Homo sapiens: one gene and its partners. The protein of the gene in region 2 purifies or fractionates together with the protein of the main gene of each other region. This does not show direct contact. Each region holds a gene or a part of one and is shown on either strand. Other genes may lie near its edges.

Region 1 (7,585 bases), on a different chromosome or scaffold from region 2:
CTACACCAAAACAAAGAAAGTAAATGAAGAGGACATGAGATACAAGAAACAAAGGGTCTAACTCAGAAAAAAGATGAAGGGAATTCTCAAACTGGTGATAAAGGGAAGTCCCAAGAGCACAGCTGTGTAGCAAAGAGGAAGAAAAACCAATCCGGGTTGGAGAAGTTGGTTAGTAAGGGTATTCCAGGTAGACAGACAATCAATCAATCAATCAGTGTTTTAAGCTGAAATTGATGGGATTATCTGACCAGTTTGACCACATTTGAGGGTTTAAATTGCTGAGTTTAAGTAAGCAAGTAGTAACACAACATACAAGCAAACCAAAAAATAAAGCAATTATTCAGTCCAGGAAAACGTGGGTGCAGCACACCAGCATGGCACATGTATACATATGTAACTAACCTGCACAATGTGCACATGTACCCTAAAACTTAAAGTATAATAAAAAAAAAACAACAAAAAACTGCACAACAAGGGCAATTCAAATGCAAAAATATTTACCTTCTATTTATATAAATGTTAACTATTCATTTAAACAAAAACTGCAGTAACAGTACTGAAAGAATGAGGGGCAAACCAAAGTGTCTGAGGACAGTTTTGGAGGAGCATAATAGCCAGTACAGAATGTCTAAAATGGGGCCGGGCGCGGTGGCTCACGCCTGTAATCCCAGCACTTTGGGAGGCTGAGGCGGGCGGATCATGAGGTCAGGAGATCGAGACTATCCTGGCTAACACGGTGAAACCCCGTCTCTACTAAAAATGCTAAAAAATTAGCCGAGTGTTGTGGCGGGTGCCTGTAGTCCCAGCTACAGGCTGGGGCAGGAGAATGGCGTGAACCCCGGAGGCAGAGTTTGCAGTGAGCCGAGATCGCGACACTGCACTCCAGCCTGGACGATAGAGCGAGACTCCGTCTCAAAAAAAAAAAGAAAAGAAAAGAAAAGAAAATGTCTAAAATGGGAGAAAGGGAATTAAAAATAACAAAAGTATATATGTGTGTTACTCAGAAGTATGAAGTATAGATGTAAAGGGCAGAAAAAACAACTAACAGCTGTCAAAGGTGCCTGCCTGTAGTCCTAAGTACTCAGCAGACAGAGGTAGGAGGATCATTTATGCCCAAAAATTTGATGGGCAACACAGCAAGACCCTATTCTAAAAAAAATACAAATAAAAATAAGAGCTGTCAAGTAGACTTTGAGAAGTAGGAATCAGCTGCAGAATAAGAAACCGACTTGACAGAACATAGAAAAACTAAACAGAAGCCATCTGGAAAAAGAAAAACTAGAGAAAGAATTATATTTTTTTTCTTTTTTTCTTTTTTGGAGACAGAGTCTCGCTCTGTCACACAGGCTGGAGTGCAGTGGCGCAATCTCTGCTCACCACAACCTCTGCCTCCAGGGTTCAAGCAATTCTCCTGTCTCAGCCTACCGAGTAGGTGGGACTACAGGCGCTGCCACCACGCCCGGCTCATTTTTGTATTTTTAATAGAGACGGATTTTCACCATATTGGTCAGGCTGGTCTCTCGGCCTCCCAAAATGCTCGGATTACAGACGAAGAATATTTTTAAGAAGGGCAAAAGCACATGTGAGGGAGTAGAAAAATGGCAAAACAAGAGGAGACTAACAAATGAAAGCGCAATGGAAGACTAGAAAGATATGATATACAGACGCATCATCACACTCCAAAACTCCGACATTCTAGAAAGCATGGGCAGTTCACAGATGGCCAGCCTCTGCCAAACTGGGGGAGAATACTAACCTCTTCATATTCTTCACAGCCACTGCCTCTTCTCCCTCCATTCTTTACCTTCTATCCAAAGCACCCTGTTTTGTCATTTCACTCAAACCTAACTTCACAGAATAGCTTCACATGTTCCAGTTACTCACTAGTTAATCCATATTCCGCTGAAATCCCCAGGTTCTAATGTAAATGACTTTAAATTTGGGGGAAAAAAAAGACTCTAAATGTAAGAGAGGTGTCATAATAACCAATCGTCAAAATTCTGCCACCACTCCACTTTATTTAATGGAGAAGTTATGTAGTTGAAAGAACATTCTAACTTCTGTCTAGACCAGTGGTTTTTAATCTTTTGGAAGCCAAGGTCCCCACTAAGAATCTCAGAAAGGCTCCAAACTTGCTTTTTTTTTTTTTAAGCTTGTTTAAAAAAAAAAAAATCAGGCTGAGCAGAGTGGCTCACACCTGTAATCTCAGCATTATTTACATGTAAAGAGGAAAAATACCCTTAAAACATCTGTGGAAAAGGTTAAAAATTGCAAGCCATACTAACGATTTGTAAGAACTTTAGAATTTTTTTTTTTTAAGCAAAGGCAGCTACCAAAGTGTTCCGGGCGGGGAGGGGGGCGAGGGAGGTGAGTATGAGGAGTGGAGTGGAGCTGGACCCTTACAAAGGGACAGCGACAAACACCTCATACTCAAAACAAGGGGACTTTCCGTGTCATTTGCGCCGTCGGGCCATTGCAAATGTCCGCGCTGAGATGCCTACCTTGTCACTCGACGCAGCCGCCAAAGCTCACCCGGAGCTGCGTCAGTCCCCACTGGGTTCCTCCAGGCCAAGGAGGTACGACCTCCGCCGCAGCATATAAAGTAAATGTCCAGGAGATGGGAAGAAACCCGCCGATACAGCACCCGGGTGCCCAAGCCCCCGAGAACTAGGCCGCGCGGGTACTACGGGGTGCGCGATCGGCCAGAAAGCCCGGGCCAGGACGGGCCCAGGAGCGAGCACCGTCGGGAACAAGCGTCGGGAACAAGCCGGGATTAAGAGGAAGCGCCGGCGCCAACGGTCTCCCGCCCGCCGCGGTCCCCCCAGGACTCTTCCTGCGCTTGCAAGCGCCACGCCGCCCACAGGACTGCGCCAGCCGGCCGGCGCCTCAACAGAGCGCGCCACGGAGCAGCGCCCCTCGGGAGACATGACGCCTGAGCCATCGAGGCGGCCGCCGCCGCCGCCCCCCCCGCCGCCGCCGCCGCCGCCGCCGCCCCCCGGCCGGGTCGAGGCCGCCGTCGCTCTCTTCGAGACCCACTCACCTGTCGAGGCGACGGGGTGAGACCCAGCACCGAGGCGACGTACCGCTCCACATCGGCCTTGCTGCGCCTCATCGCGCCGCCAACCTGGCTCCCGAGACGCGTGCGAGCACCGCTCAGCCCCGCAGCAGTCGCCACTTCCAAGAGGAAAGTGCCTGCAAGCCACTGAAGCAGCGGCGTAGCCGGCGGAGGCCCACTGTGACGAGCGTGCGGCGCCGCCCACGGAGGCCCACTGTGACGAACCTGCGTTCTGCCTCAGCACTGTGTATCCTCGGCGACGTCGGCGCTCCAGCTGCACTCGGCCGGGCTCGTGGCGCCGCCCTGTGGTCTGAGGGTGTCTTGACATGATCTTATCTATAGAAAACCTTAATGAAACCTCGAAAAAAAAAGACCTAAACTATCAGTGATAATAAATGAGTTCAAAGAGATTGTACCATACGAGGTCAACTAAAAAAATGAGATGTCTACTTATACACCAGCAAGGAACAATTCAAGTAAAATTAAGTAAACAATTCCATTTATAATATTATCAAAAATAATAAAATAATTATGAATAAATTTAACCCAAAAGTGTAAGACTTGTAGACTGGAAACTACAGAACACTGTTGAAGGAAATTAAAGAGGAGCTAAATCAATGGAAAGACATCCTGTGTTCATTAATTGGATGTAAACATGTCTACACAAAAACTTGTATACAGGCCAGGCATAGTGGCTCACGCCTGTAATCCCAGCACTTTGGGAGTTTTTGATGGGAGGATCACTTGAGTCCAGGAATTTGAGACCAGCCTGGGCAACACAGCGAGACCCCCATCTCTACAAAAAAGAAAAAACAAAAACAAAAGAAAACCTATACATGAATGTTTATAGCAGTACTATTTTTATTAGTAAAAGGTGGAAACAATCCAAATTTCCATCTACTGAAGATGGATTTTTAAAATGTGGTATTATTGGGCACAGACACACGTGCCTGTAGGCCCAGCTACTGGGGAGGTTGAGGCAGGAGGGTCGCTTGAGCCGGAGAGTTTGAAGCTGCAGTTTGCAGCTGCAGTGATGCTCCTTGATCCATGCAGGAGCTGTGATCAGGCCTGTGAAGAGCCACTAAACTCCAGCCTGGGCGACATAGTGAGATCTCTGTCTCAAAGAAAAATGTGGTATAGCCATACAATAGAATATTACTTTTGCATAAAAAATAATGAAGTACCAATGCATACTACAACATGAATCAGCCTTGAAAACATTATTCTAAATTAAAGGTGCCAATCACAAAACCTCATATATCATTTCATTTATATGAAATATCCAGAGTAGGCAAACTCAAAGACACAGAAAGTAGACTAGTGATTGCCAAGGGCTGGGTGGAGGGGAAATCTGGGAGTGCATGTGACTGCCAACGTGAATGGAGTCTCTCGTTGGGGTGATAGAGATATTTTGGAATTAGATTTTGGGGAAGGCTGTAAAACATTGCAAATTTACTAAAAAAAAAAAAATCATTGAATGAAATTAAATCCTATGGAGATGATAGGTATTTTCATTTTGGCCAGGCAATCTACCTGATTAGGTTCAAGCCACAAGTTCCCACCCCTCCATTCTGCAGTCTGGTTCCAAAGTCAGTTCAGTGTCCAGAGTCTTCACAGGACTATTCAGTTCTGTCTGACTTGTGCACCACCCAGTGGCCAGTTGTGTCTGTGGGTGATGGTCTCTCAGTTCAGCTGTCAATCTTTGGTGTGTTGAACAGGACGAGATCTATGCAGGAGCAGCTCAAGAATGAGCCCTGGGGTTTATAGACAGGTTAATGGGGTTGCTTCACTGATTAACTCTCTCTCAGCAATTACCCTGTTGCTTTCATTTGCTGAGGCTTCTCTTTTTAGTCTTCCAAGCAGAAAACAGGCTTTCGGTATCTGGCTCTACCATGCATTTCTACATCTGAAGCCAAGCAGTGGGAGGACTGAATTGGAAGAGAAGCAACATGGATTGTTTCTGCCCTCTTGGGACCACAGCTCTGTCAGTTGGAGAAGGTTCCCTCCTGCGTCTTGGCTCCTGGGCTCCTCTTGGGGCTGGTGCCAGTGCCACTGTGGGACTGCTTGTGGGCTGAGGTATGAGAGAACAGGGAAAAGAAAAATGGGGAGGAACGAACTTCTGGATTCCCTCGGAATGTTAGGAGACCCTTTTCCCGTTACTTGAGCCAGAAATAGAGGGCATCTTCTGGAGCTCTTTCTATCTGCACCCTGGTGCCCACTGCCAGGTTAGTCACGGGATGCCATAGGGGAAACATGGTTATCTCACCACCGGTTTGGTGGTACTTCAAGTTCTGGTCTTCTTGGGAAAGCTGCCTGCAACTATTTAGTTTTCAATGTCTTCCAATAGCTGCTCCATGCATTCTGTACTGTCTCCTGGCTGGACTCCATGCAGGAAGCCTGTCTCCTCCACAGTGTGCACTCACTCAGGTCATTGCTAAGTTTTATTGTTGGCATTTGTTTGCTTTAATTTTTCAGACTGACTCCCTAGAGGTCGCTTCTTGTTTGCATAGTTCGTCAGTCAAACATCAGTTAAAGCCAATATGGTTTCCACCATCTGCTGCTGGATCTATGTGCAATGGGGAGGAGGCACGCCCCGGGCCATTTGCAAGGGTGTTCCGGCTTTTACTTCCTAACACTGGCACCGGCACACACACAGGCTGTGTGCCCTGGGCATATGGACATGGCTTGGGCTTGCTCTAATCTCTGCCAGCTATGAGCCTTCAGTCCATTTGGGTAGTGTGAAGAGTTTACTAAGCTCCCTCTGGCTCTCCGACCTCCCGGAGCTCCCTCTTACATCCATGACTAATCTGCAGGTCGTTTGCTCGTCTCCAAAGGCCCAGAGCCTCAGGCTAGGAGTCAGTGGCCTTTCTTCCTCCTGGTCACTGATATCACCACCTTAACTAGCCATGCTGCAAATCAAAACCTTCCTCACTCTTGCCTCCAGCCCCTGCAGCGAGGTGGCAGGGGAGCTTATCTCCACAGGCTGCCCTGCTGGGGGCCGCTGTGTGTGTTATCAACAGCTGGGGTAAATGGGGGTAGCAGCCTGGGCAAAGATGCCACGGACACAGGCTGGTCTTATCCAAGGCTCACTTTAATTCTTCTTTTTTTTCTTTAGGGACAGGGTCTGTCTCACTCTGTTGCCCAGGTTGGAGTGCAGTGGTGTGATCACAGCTCACTGCAGCCTCAATCTCCTGGGCTCAAATGATTCTCCCGCCTTAGCCTCCCATGTAGCTGGGACCACAAGTGTGCACCACCATGCCTTTTTTGATTTTTTTTTTGTACAGACGGGGGTCTCACCAAGTTGCCCAGGCTGTTTTTGAACTCCTGAGCTCAAGTGGTCCTTCTGCTTCAGCCTCCCAAAGTGCTGGGGTTACAGGCGTGAGCCACCGCGCCTGGCCAGCTTTCATTCTTAAACACATCCCCATTTGTGCCGTGCCTTTGGTAAAATTGCAGAATGCTAAATGGTTTGTCCAGCTATACAGTTACATTTTGGAAAGATTTGTTGACCTCCTCACTTCATCATGCTAGAAGTGGGAACTTTGATTACTCTTTAAAGAATCTGAAGATGAAGGGAAGACCAACGCATAATTTGAGAGAATGGCAAGACTGAGAAAGGTTTCTGTAGCATGGTGCATGCATGTGTGTGTGCGTGTGTAGGGAGAGGCAAAGGGTTCTGACAAGAGGAAGAGGCTGAGGAAGCAGGCTCATCTCCACAACATGCTGCTGCCACCCAATCATAGGGTCTCTTGCAGCAATTCCAGTCCTGATCTCACAAACCTCATACCCTAACTACGGTCCCCCTAATTGGGGTCCCTCCTCAGAGCTTTCCTAAGGCTCCCTAACTTTTCCCCTCACCTCGGTTGAGGCCTCCATGGTTTGGACTTGCTGGTTTTGCCTTGCTCTTCCCTTGATAAATACACCATTTATTCCGGTTCAGCCCTTGGAACTTTAAACCTTAACCCAAGCCTCCTCCACCCCACTATATTAGCCCAAGCCTAGAGTATCAGATCTGGATATTTGGGTAAAGATGCAGACAAATTTTGAGTTGGAAAAGAAAGAACTTAACTCATTACTAAAAGATGACCTTGATAGCTATATATATGGGAAACAAGAATGTATCAGGAAGTTAATCCTTTGCTCACACTACACCTGGTGCATGTAATTCCATCTCTGAGTTTTCCCCTTATTATTATTATCTTTTTTTGAGATGGAGTCTCACCTTATTGCCTAGGCTGGGGTGCAATGGCACAATCTTGACTCACTGCAACCTCCGCCTCCTGAGTTCAAGCGATTCTCCTGCCTCAGCCTCCCGAGTAGCTGGGAGGCTCAGACACAACCTCCTGGGCTCAAGTGATCCTCCCACCTCAGCCTACCTAGTGGCTGAGACTACAGGAATGTGCTGCCCTGTCCGGCTTGTTTTTGTTGTTTTAATTTTTATTTTACTTCCCAGGACTCTAAAAGACTTGCTGACCTATTAACACACAAACTAGTGCCCACTTCCCTACTCCCCATCTTGTCACTTTGTCCCCA
Region 2 (8,317 bases):
ATATCATCCCTTCTATAAAACAGAGAGGACACCTCACAGGTTTCCTATACCTTGGAACACAGCAAATTTTAAGTACTGGCAGAAAGGGAATTTAGAAAAAAACCCTGTGAAGTAAAGGAGGCTGACGTTGCACAAATACTGAACTATAGTTTCAAGATGCACAAAACACTGTTCTTAATTCTAATTACTTCACTAGTAAGTAAGTGAAATTGCTTTAATTGGAGCTTCTAGAAGCCCTTCTGGGAAATGAGAGGTAGCTGGATGCAGTAGAATGCAGTGGAATGAGTATTTCAAAGAGCACTGGACTCAGCATCAGGAGATATGGGTTCTGGGGATGATCTCTGTCTCTCAGTGAGTAAGCAAGGACAAGTTGTCTCTAAGGTTCTCACTTTCCTCATCTATAAAATGACTACATTAGAGGAGTGCCTTGTAACTTATGTGCTCTGTGATTCCACGCTAAATGGAAGCCAAGTTAGACTGTGTAATTCACAGGAAATTAGGAGGCTGAAGAAAGCTTGGCAGCCAGTATCTCCCTGGATGTAGTCTGTGTTCTGCTTTCTTGTTTCTCTAGTCATTCTTTTGTTTTCAGAAAGCCAAAAATGACCTGCACTGCTTCCCAAGGTTTGGAGATTCAGAGGACCTGTCCCTGTTCCCTTCCTACCCCATTGCTGGGGCTGAGCAAAAATGAGCCCTTCACCTCAAGCTTCAGTAGCTTTCATTGAGTATCATCAGGCAGGTTCACTCATACATTCCACATTTACAAAGCACCACTATGTGCCAGGGTGCAAGGGACTAGAAAGATGTTTCTACTTGATTATTCTTGGAGCCAGAGAATGTCAAGATGCAGCGGGACTCTAGAAGCCTCGGAGTCTCAGCCTGACTTTAGAACTGAATTTTTGTCCAACCAAGGGTGTGAATAAATGCAAAGACATGACTTGTTATTTGTTAAGGTTGTGGGGTGAGGGGGGTGGTCACACAGAGCATTGTCTCCTTGTTGTTAGCAGCGTTCATCTTCCTACTTGTGGGGAGTAACAGACTACTTTTGGCAATACAGTGCTCAAAAGTGTCAAGAAAAACCCTGCAACTCAGGACCCACTGGATTCTAGAGAACAAGCGTCTCTTTTCTGGATTGTTCTTGTTTATTTGGGGGGTAAATTTGGATAAGAATCAAACAACTTGTAGAGAGATCCACAGCAGAATCAAGAGCAAGCCTGCAAACACTGTTTCTTTCATTTGGCACTTAGCAAGCACCTACTATGTGCCAGACACTGCTCCATGACCCACCTCCTCTCTCACCATCCACTGGGCAAACAACAGCCATAGGTTGAATTATGATGTGGAAGCAAATGCAAATCAACTTCCTCCTTCATATAAACAAACAAACAAACAAACAAACAAAAACTTGTGTCAGAATGTTTTTGGATACTAAACATCAAAACTCAGCCAAGCTCAGCTGGTAGGTTTTCCCAGCGATTTCCTTGGTCTGAGCATCTCTTAACTCTGCATATCGGTAAGGGGAATGGTATTTTAAAGGAGTGACTCTCTAGAGGTTGAATGGCCTCTGTGAGGGGTCGATCACAGGGGATTGGGGAAGGGGTCTCTTTAACACCAATTCCATCAGCTCTGCTAGCTGATGGGAAAGCTTGTCCTTTCACCTTCGGTATTTTAATTTAGAAGAATGTGTGTGTGTGGAGGGGGTGTTAATGGAAAAAATGTCACCGTTTTTAGAGAAGCTAGTGAATGGCAGGGCTAGCAGTCAACCTCAGATAGTCTGAAACTTTGAGGGGTGCTCTGTACCCCTGCCTCTCTCATACAACCTAGTTAATAGGATTCTCTTTAACAGGGCACTAGCAGAGGAATGAGCTATAATACAATACAGTCCTCAGAGGACTGTAGAATCAGTAGATTCTCCTAACACAAGGCCAGCTTTCCAGGGCAATTCTGGACAGCCTATGTCACCGCACACTGGTTTAGGGCTCCTTGTATATATCTCCAGTGTCCTGTGTTTCATCCCAATCTAAAACATTTATCATCTTTTATGTGTCTGCTCCCTGCTACATGGAGAAAGGAGTCATGTCATTAATCTGCTATATCCCCAGGGTCTGGCATATAGTGGGTGCTCAGTATTTGATGAGTGGGTAGATTGATGGATGGGCAGAAATACCCCTTGATCCATGGTCCTCTCATGATCTTATTTCCTATCTCTTGGACCAAAATGTAAACATCCTTCGATAAAAGAACCTTCCCTGCGTTTTAGGCTTTGGTTTTGGTTGAGAGCTCCATACTCACAAGCGCCTACAGAGGAAATTAGGGGCTATGTCTGAACCTGTTTAGAAGGGTTTCAGAACCTCTGAGGGTGTGGCTATCCCCACCACCTTCCAAAGCAATAAACTTATCCTTGTAACTTAAGGTCTTGTCTCTGTTAAAAGATAATTCTGAGCCAGATGGCATTTGCCCCTTATCAATCATTTCCTTTAATGGACTCACAGGAAAAAATCTTTGAAAGTTAAGACCGAACAGGGTGAGAATCCTTTTACAAATAACAATCTGGAACCCAGAGAGGTCTAGCCACTCGCCTAAGGTCACACAGCTTGTTGGCACAGCCCTGAATCCCTATCTCGTGGTTTCCAGCGTTTAGCCTGGCTGTGCCTCCAGTGGCCCCTCAGGGCATCTGCAGGTGACTTCCCTTCATTTGCCCAACATTTATGCAGCACCTACTATGAATCAGGCAGCATGCTGGGGCCTGTGGATAGAAAGATGAAGAGCCATAGTCTTTGTCCTGCAAAGGCTTTCTTCTCTGAGCTGTACCCATGGTAGCCCCAAGTTTCTACGCCTTAAATCCGAGGTCCCCCGTGGCCTGCAGCAGCTTTGCCTGAGTAGAAGGCAGCCCGCACTAAGGCTCCAGGCTTATTTGGGACCTGGTGGGCGACGGGGCCTCAGCCCCTCCCGCCTACCCTGGAGCTTGTTGCCGCCGTTACCACTGAACCAGTCATGCCAGAAAGTCATCACGATGATTTCAGAACTGTATTGTGATTTATGCAAAGCGCGCCGATAATTACAGCCGGGCGCACAGAACACAGGATGCATATGCTGCGGGTGTGTGCGCGCAGTGTTGTGCCTTTCGCCAGGGCTGAATGGGGTGTGTGTGTATTCCGTAGGCATCTTCTTGACACCATGCTTGATCGGGGACTGGTGACAGGAAAAAGAGGGAAGATACCCATTTTGATTTTGAGACAATTTGATGAGCCTTGGGAGTATTTTCCAGAAGTTTTGGTGCCTACAAATGAGCCAGCCTGGCAGGAGCGTTCGAGAGTAGGGGAAGAGGTGGTTTGGAGCCCAGGAAAGCCATCGTCCAGCCCCCGCACAGGCAAAGCAATTAGTAGTTCTCCTTCTCGAAACAGACCCCTAAATGCTTCCCCTGCAGACAGGCCTGGGTCTAGTCATCACCCCCCACACTGCCCTCATCTTCGCCCCAGATAAATTAGTTCCACCCTTGAAGTTCTTTGTCCTGAACCAAAGAACCCCATAATCGCGTCCGCGTTATGGGGGTGGTGGTGGTAGGTGGCTGAAGCAAGTGGATTTCTGGCGTGAACCAGAACCTGAGGATTCCAAACGGAGCCTGGCATCTTATTGTGTTTCTCAAATCCTGCCCGAAATTCCTCCCCTCTCTGGGCGCCGAGTTCGAGAAAGCGCTACGCCGCCGGTCGGGCTAGCTCCACAAGCGGCTGTACAAGTTGGCTGTCAAAAAACGCTGATTTCTCCTCCTGTCACCTAATAAACCCCTACGCGCTTATGGCCTCGTCCCACAATCCCCCAATCTCGTCCCAATTCGAAAAACCGAGGAGGAGGGAATAAACTGAGAGATAAAGATCCCCCCATCTTGCTCTTTCCCCGGGACCCCAGCCTTGGTCGCGGCGCCCCACTAAGGAGGACACAGGCTCTGGTGTGTGTGGTGTGCGAGACCCCGAGCTCGAGGCCGAGCCAAGGCTGGGCAGAAAGTTGCAATCACGTGCTGTCGGAGCCCACTGGAGCGCACAGCCCGCTCCCCCTGGGACGCCCAGGCGGAGGACCTGCTGCGCCCTCCCAGGGCTCGGGGGACTCCAGCATTCACTTGCACGCACAGGCGAACTCTGATTGAAAGCCCGGGATGACACCGAGTCTGGAGAAAGAGGGACCGGGGGGTGGGCTGGCGGAATTGCAGAGCGCCGGCCACAGCTCCCCTCCCCGCGAACGTCGAGCGGAGGGCGGGAGGTGTAACCTCTGACCTCTGGCCGGGTCCACGCCCTGAGGAGGGACTGGCAAGCTCTTGTTCGACAAGTTCAAGCTGCCGAGAGAGCTTAAATAGAATTAATCTCTTAGAGATCGGGGATCATCGCTCCCTCGGCATGCGCTCTCCCAGCGCCGCGCACAGAGCAAGGCGCGAGAGAGCTCAGGAATCGCGGGAAGGCAAGCGGAATGGGGAGGGGGTAGGGGATGAGGGCCTCTCTTCACTATTCCTCCGCCCGGAGAGCGGGAGCCCGCAACGCCCGCCGAGGACGAGCGGCGGGAGGGAACGCTCTGCCCTCCAGCCGCCCCGGTGCAGATAATGGAGGCGACAAGAGATTCGCTCAGCGTCGGATGGGCCAGCTCTGCTTGGGGAAGCTGGCGGCATCCTCCCCTCGGCTGGTGCCCAAACCCACTGCGCGAAGGCCGAAGGAACGCGGAACCTCCAGAAGACCCCATCCTCAGCCCTGACTTTCCGTAGATATGTGCAAAATGAGTAAATTACTCACCTCGGGCCAGATCCAAGTTTTACCCAACAGAAGGGGCACCGGACCAAGAATGAACCAACTCACATGGCCATGTCCGGCGCGCACAATCACACGCCAGCACACAGCCACCCAATTTCTTCCGCGAATCTATCTGGCACTCTGGAGAGAGGGGGAAAAGCGTTTTGAGAAAGCCCCGTCACCCCTCCCCTTCCTTCTTGCCGTGAAATATACGAATTCATTTTTATTACGAGCCGCACCGTCCTCACCATCACGCACGCACAGAGCCACACTCCCATATTCACACTTTCTAACTCGTAAGCTCCGACAGCGCCTGCATTTTCTTTGGGAGCCGCTTGGAGGTTCATTAATATCATTAGCATTTAACCCCCTCCCTCTTCCCATCCCCTCCCCGCACATGGCTGACGTCAGACCCCGCCAGGAGTTGGGGGAAAAGCTAAGTGGGCCAGGGACGCCCTATTCCCCTCCCCGCGGCTGCCTGTCAGAGCGCTTCTGGAGATATTACAGGGGACCCAGCCCGCAGCGACAGGCACAAAGTCACGGGGTAATGAACTTCGGGGACCCTTCGCCGCTGCGTGCGCGGCTCTCCCCGGAAACCCGGACCTGGCCGCCTCTTCCCTCGGAAGATTTCCCAGCAATCTAGTTTTCCCACTCTGCGCTTGGGTTCCGGCAGCGCGGAGCCCGTCTGCCTCTGAGACTGCGGTAGTGTTTTCCTTCTTTCCTTGGGAGACCAGCGGTCGGCAGAGATTGCCCACACTCTGCATGCCTATGTAGAGGGAGAGATCGAAGACTGAGTGACAGGAATGGGGAAAAAGAGGGATTTCGCTCCGTAGGAAGGCCATTTTCGTGTCTCCATCTCTGTCTTTCAACATCCCTCTCTTGCTGTTCTTCCTTCTTCCTCAGTCTTCCTGTCCATCTCTCCATCTGTCTGTCCATGTGTGTGTCCATATCAAGCAGCATTCCCAGCAGCTGCGGTTTTGCAAGAGCCGGGAAGAAACTTAAGGATGCTTAAATTTCCACTGTTGGACGAATTCTGAGCGCCCAGGGAGCAGCGCAGCGCGCGACTGACACCCACCTGTCCCGCCCAGGAGCCTTGCAGGCTGGAGGGCAGCTGGAGAGCGGCGGCGCCCGGCGGCGAGGCGGGCGCTGCCGGCCGGGACTCGGGCAGCGCCCACCAACCGCTCCGCCCCGGGACAGCCAGCATGAGCAAGCCAGCCGGATCAACAAGTGGGTACCTCTCGGGCCGCCGTGGGGCCTAGGCGCGCAGCCTGGGGCGAGCGAGCGGGGAGGCTGGGGGAGGTCCTGCCTGGAGCGCTGCGAATCTGAGCCCCTGAGAGGGATTCCAGCGGGCGTGTGCGTTCGGCCCAGACCTGTAGACCGTGAGTTGGAGCATTTCGTGGAGAGGGGAGAGCCGTTTCGTTGCCTCTGGATTGCTTGATCCCCCCTGTCTGGTGCGGTGAGAAGGTTACGACCCGCGCAGCCCACCAGTCGGATGAGTTGTCTCCATTTAGCCGCCAGGTGCTGGATGGGGGGGCCATGGGGGCGGGAACTGGGCCGCAGCTCCAGGCGGTAGCACAATAACACACTCGCTCAAAACTCCGAGCTCCAGCGCGCAAAAGCAACTCTGTGCAAAGCGGATTTTGAATGGAATGCTTTGCACCCCGTTTCTAGCTATTTCAAATAATCCTGCAAACTGGGAAGCAGAAACAATTTAAAAGTCACATTTTCCTTAATCCTAAATCCGCGTAGGTCATAACTGGGGAATTTAAAGTATGGCGAACCACTCTAGCAAAGAGAGGACCAAATCCCTAATCCCAAGGACTTTTCGAGCCGGAGCCCAGCAGAGGCAGGAGTGCGCGGCCTGCTCCCTCCGTGCGCTTCTCTCCTTCCTCGAACTTCCTTAGCTGCCGGCTCTCCGAACGCCAGGCCGCAGCTGACCTCTCACCACCCCGAGACTCACGAGCGCAGGGCTAAGTGTGTGTGCGAGGGCATTTGCTTGCACCCTGCCTGCGGAACCCAAGAATGTGCAGGCCCGAGCCAGCGTTGAGCAGGCGCGGTCACGGTGCTCAGATCTCCCGGGGGCATTTCAGTTCCCGCCATCCAGTGGCCCACGGCTGCGGGCTCCAGGGTCTGAGGCTGGGGACTACCGTTGCCGCCGCAGTCCCCATATCCCGAAGTTGCCTTGCTGCTTGTGTTGTTTTCGCAGATAGCATTTTTGGCGCTCTGTGCGTTCCTTCCCTCCCCCTCCCCCTTTCACTCGCCCTCATTGTCCTGAGTCTTTGAAAGTTGGGAGAATCGGAGATACTTCTGAGGACTGGTAATGAAGTCTCACTTAAGTGGGATGCAATTCCCGCCCTCCTACCCCCCTCCAAGAAGGAGGTTGTGTTTTCATTTTGTTTTGCTTTGGGTGCTGACCTTTAAAAAATTAGAGCAAAATGAACGTGAACAAAAAGAAAAGGAGAAATGTTTCGAGCTGGGGCAGAGGGAGCAGAGAAGGAGCCCTCACCGCGGCCGGAATGCAGAGCGGACCCTGGCCCAGGACTGGGTTTCCCTTTAGGCTCGGGCCTACCCTGGCCCTCGCTGTTGGAATCTCCAGGAGGTAAAGCGACCTCGATTTTTGTTGCCCGCATTCCCGGGCGTGAGTGTCCTTCCCAGGAGGCTCAGGAGGCCGTTTCTGTTGCATTCTGAGCCTCCGTTGCAAAAACTGAAGCCCGTGGGTCTCGGCAGGCCTCCTAGCTCGCTCGCCCCGGGACAGGCCCTCGCCTACACCCCTGGAAGTAAGGAGCCCCGGGCTCTTTCGTCCTTTTCGGGGTGTGGAGCCCCTGGGGCCCTTGAAAGGTGAGGCCTCAGAGGCGAGGGAGGGGTGAGCGGGGAGCTCTGCCCGCCTGCGGCTGCGCCCCCGCTGTGGACTAGGAGGCAGGCCAACCCTCCGGACTTTGGGGGAAAAACCACAGCGGGCTCCTTGCGGAAACTTTGGCCGTTCTAACTTGCCAAGAGCCTGAGTGAGGCCTTGGAAGCCTCCAGCCCCGGCTCAGGTCGGGACGCGGCTGCTGAGCTTTCTCAGGCCCGCAGGACAGCGGCCCCCGCCGGTGGCGCCGCTGCATTTAGGCCCTTTCCAGACCGGTGGCGGCAGCCAACCCGAGACTTGCGTCCCTCGGGCCCGGGGCAGCTAGGAGGTCGGCGCGCAGCGGGCCGGGTCAGGACTGGGTCGAGCAGACAGAGCTGCAGCCCCCGCCTTGCCCGGCTTCTCGCGGCTGGAGAGCAGAGCGATGTCACCCGGAGCCCCGCCTGGGTGGTAACGAGACCCTGGCCAGTCACCCCTGCAGCCCAGACTAACTTCTTTCAACAGCCTCTGATGGTAATTACAGTAATCGAAGCTGCCATATATCTTTAGGCAATTATGACACACAAAAAGCCCCGAGGGGACCCCCTGGCGAGGGAAGTTAAGAACGGTTTTCCAGCTTCAGGAAACTCCGGCTCGCCTCACGTCGGAGCTCGCTCGGCTTGCTAAATGAGAGGAGCTTTGCAACGGGGTCAACCAGCTTGTC
Region 3 (8,063 bases), on a different chromosome or scaffold from region 2:
ACTGCCCACAGCCCCCACCCCACCCCGGGCCCCCGCTCACTGCCCACAGCCCCCACCCCACCCCGGGCCCCCGCTCACTGCCCACAGCCCCCACCCCACCCTGCTTCTAGCTTAGTGAGCTTCCACCAGCCGGGGGCAAGGAAAAGACCGCAGTTTCCGCAGCTACTCAGACTGGATTTAGCTCTAGCTCTGATAGGCGGGTCTCTTGGGGCAAGTCCCTAGCTTTAAGCACCAGTCTCCTCACTGAACTTTCCTAACGGGTTGTTGCAGTAAAACCCACAGGTACCACGTGCGATGTACCTTTCACGGGACTGACACACAGGTGCTCAGTAAATGGAAGTCTTCAGTTCTCTCCCCTGGGTTGTCTGGCTTTGCCTCTTGCTAATTCCTAGCTTTCTCCTACAGGTTCAAAACTGTCAGTGATGGCTGTGACAGGAGCCAGGAGTCCTATTGTCTAGAAAACTCAGGACCCCCTGCCCTGCCTATACACAGCCATTCTCCATTCAGTTTCCCCCATCCCCTTCTTTTCCCTTGGAAATGTCATATTTCATCCTATGAACACATGGTTGCCAACACAGTCCCCCAGCCTGGATCACCTTTCTTTTCCTCTCTGCTCCTCTGCACAGTCCCATTGGTCACCCCGCACCCTAGTGTTTCTGGCTATGTTTCTGACACTTGAGGATTCTAAGCTGTGAGAGTCAGAGGCACTTACCTCTGAATCCCCACAAAGCCCTCAGCACAATGCCTGGCACATAGCAGGCACTCAACAAATATTTACTGAGTGCTTGCTAGGTGCCAAGCACTGATCTGGGTGCTGCAGATACAGAGGTGAGCAAGGCAAGCAGGGGCCCTGCACCAAGGAGCTCCCTCCCTAACTGGGAAGGACATGGCAATGACATCAACACATTTCAAAAAGGAAAGAAATAAAACAGAAAAAAGGGAAAGTGGCTGAGGTGGAACAGGGGTTGGCCCTGGATTGGGTGGTCTGGGTAGGTCTCATCAAGGAAGTGGCATGTGAGCTGAGTGGGATGATGAGAAGGAGCCAGCCATGGGAAGAGGCAGAGGAAAGCATTCCAGACAGAGGGGAGAGCATGCTGGAAGTGTCTGGGAAACAGAAAGAAGGCTGGGGTGCTGAGGCACTGCAAGAAGGAGAAAGAGATGGCTGTGAGGCTGGCTGGGGCGGGCCACATGGGGCCAAAGACCACAGTGAGGGGGTGGGGAGCCCCCCAAGGGCTTTAAGCAAGAGTGACATTACCTGACATGGGTTTTCTCTAGCTGACACTAGGGACAGAAGGGGAAGCAGGAAGACCAAAGAGGAGGCTGTGGTGCTGAGAGGAAAGATGACACTAGTTTGGGCCAGACAGGCAATAGTGGAGGAGGGTGTGCCACTGCCCACTGCCATTCCAGCCTGGGCGACAGAGACCCTGTCTCCAAAAAAAAAAAACTAGAATGGTGGGGTGCGATGGCTTACGCCTGTAATCCCAGCACTTTGGGAGGTCGAAGCGGGCAGATCACTTGAGGTCAGGAGTTCAAGACTAGCCTGACCAATGTGGTGAAACCCCCGTCTCTACTAAAAATACAAAAATTAGCCGGGCGTGGTGGCGGGCGCCTGTAATCCCAGCTGCTCAGGAGGCTGAAGCTGGAGAATCGCTTGAACCCGGGAGGAGGAGGTTGCAGTGAGCCGAGACAGCGCCATTGCACTCCAGCCTGGGTGTCACAGTGAGACTCCATCTCAAAAAAAAAAAAAAAAAAAAAAAGACTAGAAAGGTGGGTGACCTTGGATTCATGATACTACTGCTGGAACTCATTTTCCTCTGGAGATAACGAGGGTAGTGACCGATTCTAGTTTTATGTAATTGTTTAGGGGAGTTTTCTTAAGCAATGCCCGTCAAGTGCTTGGCATATGAACCCTTAGCTGTTAGTATCTCTGTGTTAGGCCTATCGACTTTGGTAGGGGTGATGGGGCAGGCGGTGCAGCTGGAGAGGCCCGATCACGAAGGGCCCTAAATGTCAGAGCACAGAGCGTGGGCTGAATCCTGTGCCCCGGAGAGCGGTGGGAAGGATTCGTAGAGGGGAATGTGCTGCTTAGACATGCATTTTGGAAGCCCCCTTCCCTGCAGAGAATCCAGGACTGGTCCAGTAGAGGAGACGGGGAGATGGGGTAGGGTGTCCGCTCACTTTCTAGCAGGTCCACCTCAAAGTCCTTGGTGGGCAGACGCACGGAGTTGAAGCCCCAGGTGGGGATGTGGCCTTCCAGCGGTGGCTTCCCCGACAACACGCGCAGGAACGTGCTCTTGCCTGCGCCATCCAGCCCCAGCACCAGCACCTCGCGCTGTTCCAGCTCCTCCAGCGCCGGCTCCTCGTCCTCCTCGTCCTCGGGCTGCGGGGAAGCGGAGGTAAGGTTGCGGCTGGCGGCCTCCCGAAGGACCTTTCCCGAGGGAAGACCGAAGGCACCAGAGGGCCCAGGCCCGCCTTCCACCCGTCCTGGGACAGGCAGGCATGGTCTGGATGAGTGGGACGAACGCCGCCTTTGCAGTCCTGAATTCCAAACCCTTGGCGAATTCCTTAAACGCTCGCGCGCCCCGCTTCCTCCACCGGTCTCGGAGTCCCGACCGCAGGCGGGAGGGGATGGGGTTTCTCCCGACATCCCCACCCCCGGGCGGGGTGCACTGCGCAGGCGCCGGAGGGGCGCGAGCCGACCCGGCTGGGCCCCGGGATGCTCCCGAGCCGCGCCCTCCAAACTCCGGCCCCCGCTGGAACACCCGAGCCTCATGGCGTGGAGCGACGGCGTGGCGCCAAGGCGCCGCACGCACCCAAGCACACCCACCCGTTCCTCGGTTCCCGGGCTCTGACCGCCCACCCGCGCGGGGCCTGTGCGCTGCGGCTGCCAAGCCCTCGACCCCCCAAGCTCCCGGCACCAGCAGGGCCGTTCCGTGGTCACACCCCTTGGCCACATGCGCGGAGTCGCAGCCCAGCCTGCCCGCCCTTCCGCAGGCCTCGGCCCGGCACTCACGTCCCACTCGTCCCACTCGGGGAGGCGGGCAGCCTCCGCGCCCCACCAGGCCTCTCCCCGGTCCCAGCGCCGCTCTCGGCCGCGGCCGAAGTAGGTCTTCCAGAGGATGAAGAGCACCGAGCCCAGCACCGCCGCGGCGCCGCCCAGCGCCAGCACCAAGGGGCCCAGCGGCCGCGGCGCCATCGGGCCGGGCGAGGGACGCAGGTGCGGGTTGCACAGGCCGAGCCCACTCGCCCGCCGAAGATGGCCCCGCTGCGACTGCTGCGGCCGCGCCCACCCACCCAGACCCAGTCCCGCACTACAAGCCCCACAATGCACTGCCGCTGTCACGGCAGGCCGCCCGGGACCCGGCGGCGTGGGTGGTGGGGCGCTGGCCGGCGCGCGGGGACCTCCGGTCCCCCTGCCAGGTGCAGGGTGGAGGAAGGAGAGGCTGTGCCTGGGGAGGACGGGAGACGGCGGTGCTTGCTAGCATCCACCAGGGGTTAGCTCACGGCTTTTCTCCGTTACCCCTTACAATGATACCACGCAGAAGGGAAAACCGAGGCCCAGGAGTTAAGTAACCCGCCCAACGCCGCATCGTAGTGCTTTGGTGTAGCCTGCGTTCAAACCCAAGCGATCTGTCTCCCGGTCATCCCTCAAGACCTCGGGAGGAAATTGAAGCAAGACGCCCGATATCACACGGCAGTGGGGTGGCAGAGGCAGGAATAGAACCCAGGTCCGTGGCTCCCCGCCACCTCTAGCCTTCTTTCGCTGCCTCCCGGACCACAGGGGTTTTGCTGGGGTCCTGGTCAGGCTGAATTAAGCAGTGTCAGGACTTCAGAATGTTTAGGGCTGACTGCCTTGTCCTAGGTACCCCCAGTGACTGCCAAGGCTTCCACGTGTGTAGCACGAGGAGGAAGAACAGGAGAAACGACCTGAGTACAGCAGTCGGGTTCTTTTGGCTCTCCAGAGGGGTGACGCCATGTACGGCTGGCTGTAGGGTACATGGGTCGAGAGACCGCCTGTGGCTCTCAGGGCCCAGCAGGGCTACCTCTTCCCCTTTATATTGTCTCAACTCTTCACCTCCTTTTAGTTTGCGATTCCTCTGTACCCCTGGCTCTGGGTCCCAGCCCCTATTCCTTCTGATTTGTCCCCCTTTCCCTTTGACTACATATATATGCTCCTCTCCTCCCAGATAGTGATGTTTTAGCTACATCTTATTTCTTCCGGCATTGATTCTTTTGAAAAATTTATTTCTGGCCGGGTGTGGTGGCTCATGCCTGTAATCCCAGCACTTTGGGAGGCCGAGGCAGGCGGATCACCTGAGGTCAGGAGTTCGAGAATAGCCTGCCTAACATGGTGAAACCCCATCTCTACAAAAATTAGCCGGGCGTGGTGGCACGTGCCTGTAATCCCACCTACTCAGGAGGCTAAGGCAGGAGAATCGCTTGAACCCAGGAGGAGGAGGTTGCAGTGTGCTGAGATTGCGCCACTGCCCTCCAGCCTGGGTGACAGAGCAAGAATCCGTCTCAAAAAAAAAAAAAAAGAAAAAAAAATTAGCTCCTCCTCAAAAATACACCCACTTAGAGGGGAAAACCCACAAAATTGCTAAGATTAAAAGTTTGGCTGGTGCGGTGGCTCACGCCTGTGATCCCAGCACTTTGGGAGGCCGAGGCAGCCGGCCGGATCACGAGGTCAGGAGATCGAGACCATCCTGGCTAACACGGTGAAACCCCATCTCTACTGAAAATCCAAAAAATTAGCCGGGCGTGGAGCCGGGCGTGGTGGCAGGCGCCTGTAGTCCCAGCTACTTGGTAGACTGAGGCAGGAGAATCGCTTGAAACTGGGAGGCAGAGGTTACTGTGAGCCGAGATTGCGCCACTGCATTCCAGCCTGGGCAACAGAGCGAGACCTTGTCTCAAAAAAAAAAAAAAAAAAAATGTTTACAGTCTATTATTTGTGGAAAAGAAATAGGTGCTCTCACATAGGTGCTATGCACCAAGACCATGACAGCTTCAGACATTGGTACCACAAATATCAGGGATAAAGTTTTTTTTTTTTTTGAGATGGAGTCTCACTCTGTAGCCCAGGCTGGAGTGCAGTAGTGTGATCTCAGGCCTCCCAAAGTGCTGGGATTACAGGCATGAGCCACCACACCCAGCCAGAAATAAATTTTTCAAAAGAATCAATGCCGGAAGAAATAAGATGTAGCTAAAACATCACTATCTGGGAGGAGAGGAGCATATATATGTAGTCAAAGGGAAAGGGGGACAAATCAGAAGGAATAGGGGCTGGGACCCAGAGCCAGGGGTACAGAGGAATCGCGAACTAAAAGGAGGTGAAGAGTTGAGACAATATAAAGGGAAAGAGGTAGCCCTGCTGGGCCCTGAGAGCCACAGGCGGTCTCTCAACCCATGTACCCTACAGCCAGCCGTACATGGCGTCACCCCTCTGGAGAGCCAAAAGAACCCGACTGCTGTACTCAGGTCGTTTCTCCTGTTCTTCCTCCTCGTGCTACACACGTGGAAGCCTTGGCAGTCACTGGGGGTACCTAGGACAAGGCAGACTGCAGCCTCCGTCTCCCAGGTTCAAGAGATTCTCCTGCCTCAGTCTCCAGAATAGCTGGGATTACAGGCACCTGTCACTACGCCTGGCTGATTTTTGTATTTTAGTAGAGACGGGGTTTCGCCGTGTTGGCCAGGATGGTCTCGAACGCCTCAGCCTCTGAAAGTGTTGGGATTACAGGCCTGAACCACCGTGCCCAGCCAGAAAAAGTTGTTTTAATCAAATAGTAACTTCCAGGAAAGTCTTAAGTTTTCATGTATTTGTGGCTAAGAAATAAATGAGATGATCCCACCTTATGATCTACATAAGGGTGCAAAGTGCTATTTCTTCCTTTTCTGACTGAGAGGTGATATACATCCCTTCCTGTGGTGGATAAAGAGCAAGGTGCCAGCTTTGCTTCCACAGAGGTTAAAAAATATGGCATATTTTAAAAGCTCCAAATTAACAAAGGAACACCTTTAACACACACACGCACGCACACATATACACACAATTATACTGCAATGTAATTGTGCTGTTGATAAGCTAATTATAGAATTCATCAAAGACTTTAATTCTTAGTGCACTCAAGCACCCTGGTCTGGAAACAGCGCTTAAGTTTCAAGTCGCATGAGCAAGGCCTCTCAGTTCTGCCAGTACGGCTGGAAGCCTCAAATGCTGAAATCTAAATGTGACATTCACCCTGCACCACCAATCATAGCTCTCCTGAGATGAGTTTTGATGGCGAGCTTTGGACTGGGGTAGAAACGTGGATAGATTTTTGCAAATTCTGCTGTAACTTCGTTGCTTCGCCTTCTTTGTGAACCCTTCAGGGATAAGAGAAGTCTTCCTTCAGGATGTGACTGACACCTCAGCTGGCGCCTCTAAGCCTCACTCTCCTTTATGTAAAAGAGAAATGATATTAGGATCGCCTTCCCTAGGGGAGGCAGGTGAGGTCGGTTCCCTTTTTTGGTTCAGCTACTAGTACGAACCCTGCCTAACCCCGCTGTTTTGGGAGACAGTCCGTGCTCACTGCACCGCTTGCTAATCGAAGTGACTTCTCATCTCTCCCAGTCTCAGCTTCACCTCCGTGAAGTGGGAAAAACAGGATGACAAGTGCTCGCACTTGGCAGCCCTTTTTGAGCCTTGAGGGCTTGGGTTTGTGGGTGTCATTTTACTATGCTACCTCCGTCTTCCCTTAGCTTGTCACGGACCCAGGCACAGCACACGCGCTGAGGAAGTGGTGGTGAAGTGTGGCGTTTCCTCTCGGGGCTGGCGGATTCCACACTCGGAGCTGCGGCTCCACAACTCGCTGGGCGGCGAAGGGCATGGGGAGGGGGCGGGTCTCGCGATCGTGGACAACAACTCCCAGCATGCCCTGTGCTCCGCTGGGCCAAGTCTCGCGCGAGATCCCGCGGTCTCCGGAGGCTTTATCTGCAGTGCTGCCTGCCCGCTGGGTGGTACTGCTACCTAGTGGGTCTTGGGGACCTTCGAAATCGCCGCCGCTCTCACAATGGCTTGGGTCCAGACTGCGCCACAGCCTCTCGGGAGACGTGGGCCCTCGGAACCTTTTTAGTGCCGGACTCCGGGCCGCAGGCAGTCCCGCGGCAGCAGGATCACAGGTGAACAGATGGCGGGCCTGGGCCCTCCCTTGGGGCTGCGTTCTCTGGCGATCAGGAGGGGCGCTTCCGGCGAGGCCCGATCTCGGGGCCCCTCCAAGCCACTCCCCTCTCCCCGCACCTCTTAACCCTTCATCCCGGCTTCGAGCTCGGCTGGGTCGCCTCTTGCCTCCCTGGCTCCGCTCTCTGGGGTCTCCGTAATGGGGCTTCTCTCCGGGAATGCCCTGCAGCTCCCGTACGGGCTTCCCCTCCGCTTCGTGGGACCAGCCCAGCCCGAGCCCCCGCGGCTTGTCCTCAACCTCATCTCCCCACACCCCGCCTTCGGCTAGGGTCCTGGCCCTAATCTTAGCCTGGAGGGGTGGGTGAAGCAGCCGGCCTTTCGTATCCTGGCGGCACCGTCTTGTATATTGTGAAGGAGAGGCAGAGGGACGGTGAGCTGGGGGGTGGGGGCACAGGGAAAGGGAAAGGGGAAGGGGACGTGTCTGGGGCGGGAATGCTCCCTGGACTGGGAGGATGGCTGAATTCGGCCTTTGCGATGCTCGTTAGTGAAGAACTATCAATAACTTGTTTGCTCTGTCTGAGTCCTATCGGGATAGAGGGACGGTGTAGCAAGCTGAAAAACAAGAGTAACTTTCTCAGGCCCTCGTTTTAACTCCCCTGTAAACTGGGCATGAAACTACCTACCTTGCGCACGGACCACTTATCTGTGACCGTGGACAAATTTACTTAACTCCTCTGATTTTTAGTTTCCTTCTCTTTATTATTATTTTTAACATTTTTTTAATTTTTTTAATTTTTATTTTTGAGACCGAGTCTCACTCCGTCGCCCAGGCTGGAGTACAGTGGCTCGATCTCGGCTCACTGCAACCTCCGCCTCCCGGGTTCAAGCTATTCTCCTGCCTCAGCCT

What was found. The genes of interacting proteins can lie anywhere in the genome.
Region 1: the proteins of NR2E1 (region 2) and RGPD5 purify together in Homo sapiens (affinity purification with mass spectrometry, with the first as the bait; 3 studies listed by BioGRID). This does not show direct contact.
Region 3: the proteins of NR2E1 (region 2) and ARL10 purify together in Homo sapiens (affinity purification with mass spectrometry; 3 studies listed by BioGRID and IntAct, with this or other methods). This does not show direct contact.

Annotation. Positions count from the first base shown.
Region 1 is NC_000002.12:109,789,993-109,797,577, reverse strand, and holds the start of RGPD5 (RANBP2-like and GRIP domain-containing protein 5/6), read right to left. Parts: upstream 3,274-7,585; 5' UTR 3,113-3,273; coding exon 3,041-3,112; intron 1-3,040.
Region 2 is NC_000006.12:108,160,795-108,169,111, forward strand, and holds the start of NR2E1 (nuclear receptor subfamily 2 group E member 1), read left to right. Parts: upstream 1-5,227; 5' UTR 5,228-5,971; coding exon 5,972-5,996; intron 5,997-7,228; exon of another isoform or gene 7,229-7,232; coding exon of another isoform or gene 7,233-7,368; intron 7,369-8,317. UniProt on the Homo sapiens protein: Orphan receptor that binds DNA as a monomer to hormone response elements (HRE) containing an extended core motif half-site sequence 5'-AAGGTCA-3' in which the 5' flanking nucleotides participate in determining receptor specificity.
Region 3 is NC_000005.10:176,360,697-176,368,759, reverse strand, and holds the start of ARL10 (ADP-ribosylation factor-like protein 10), read right to left. Parts: upstream 3,274-8,063; 5' UTR 3,197-3,273; coding exon 3,014-3,196; intron 2,381-3,013; coding exon 2,179-2,380; intron 815-2,178; exon of another isoform or gene 729-814; intron 1-728.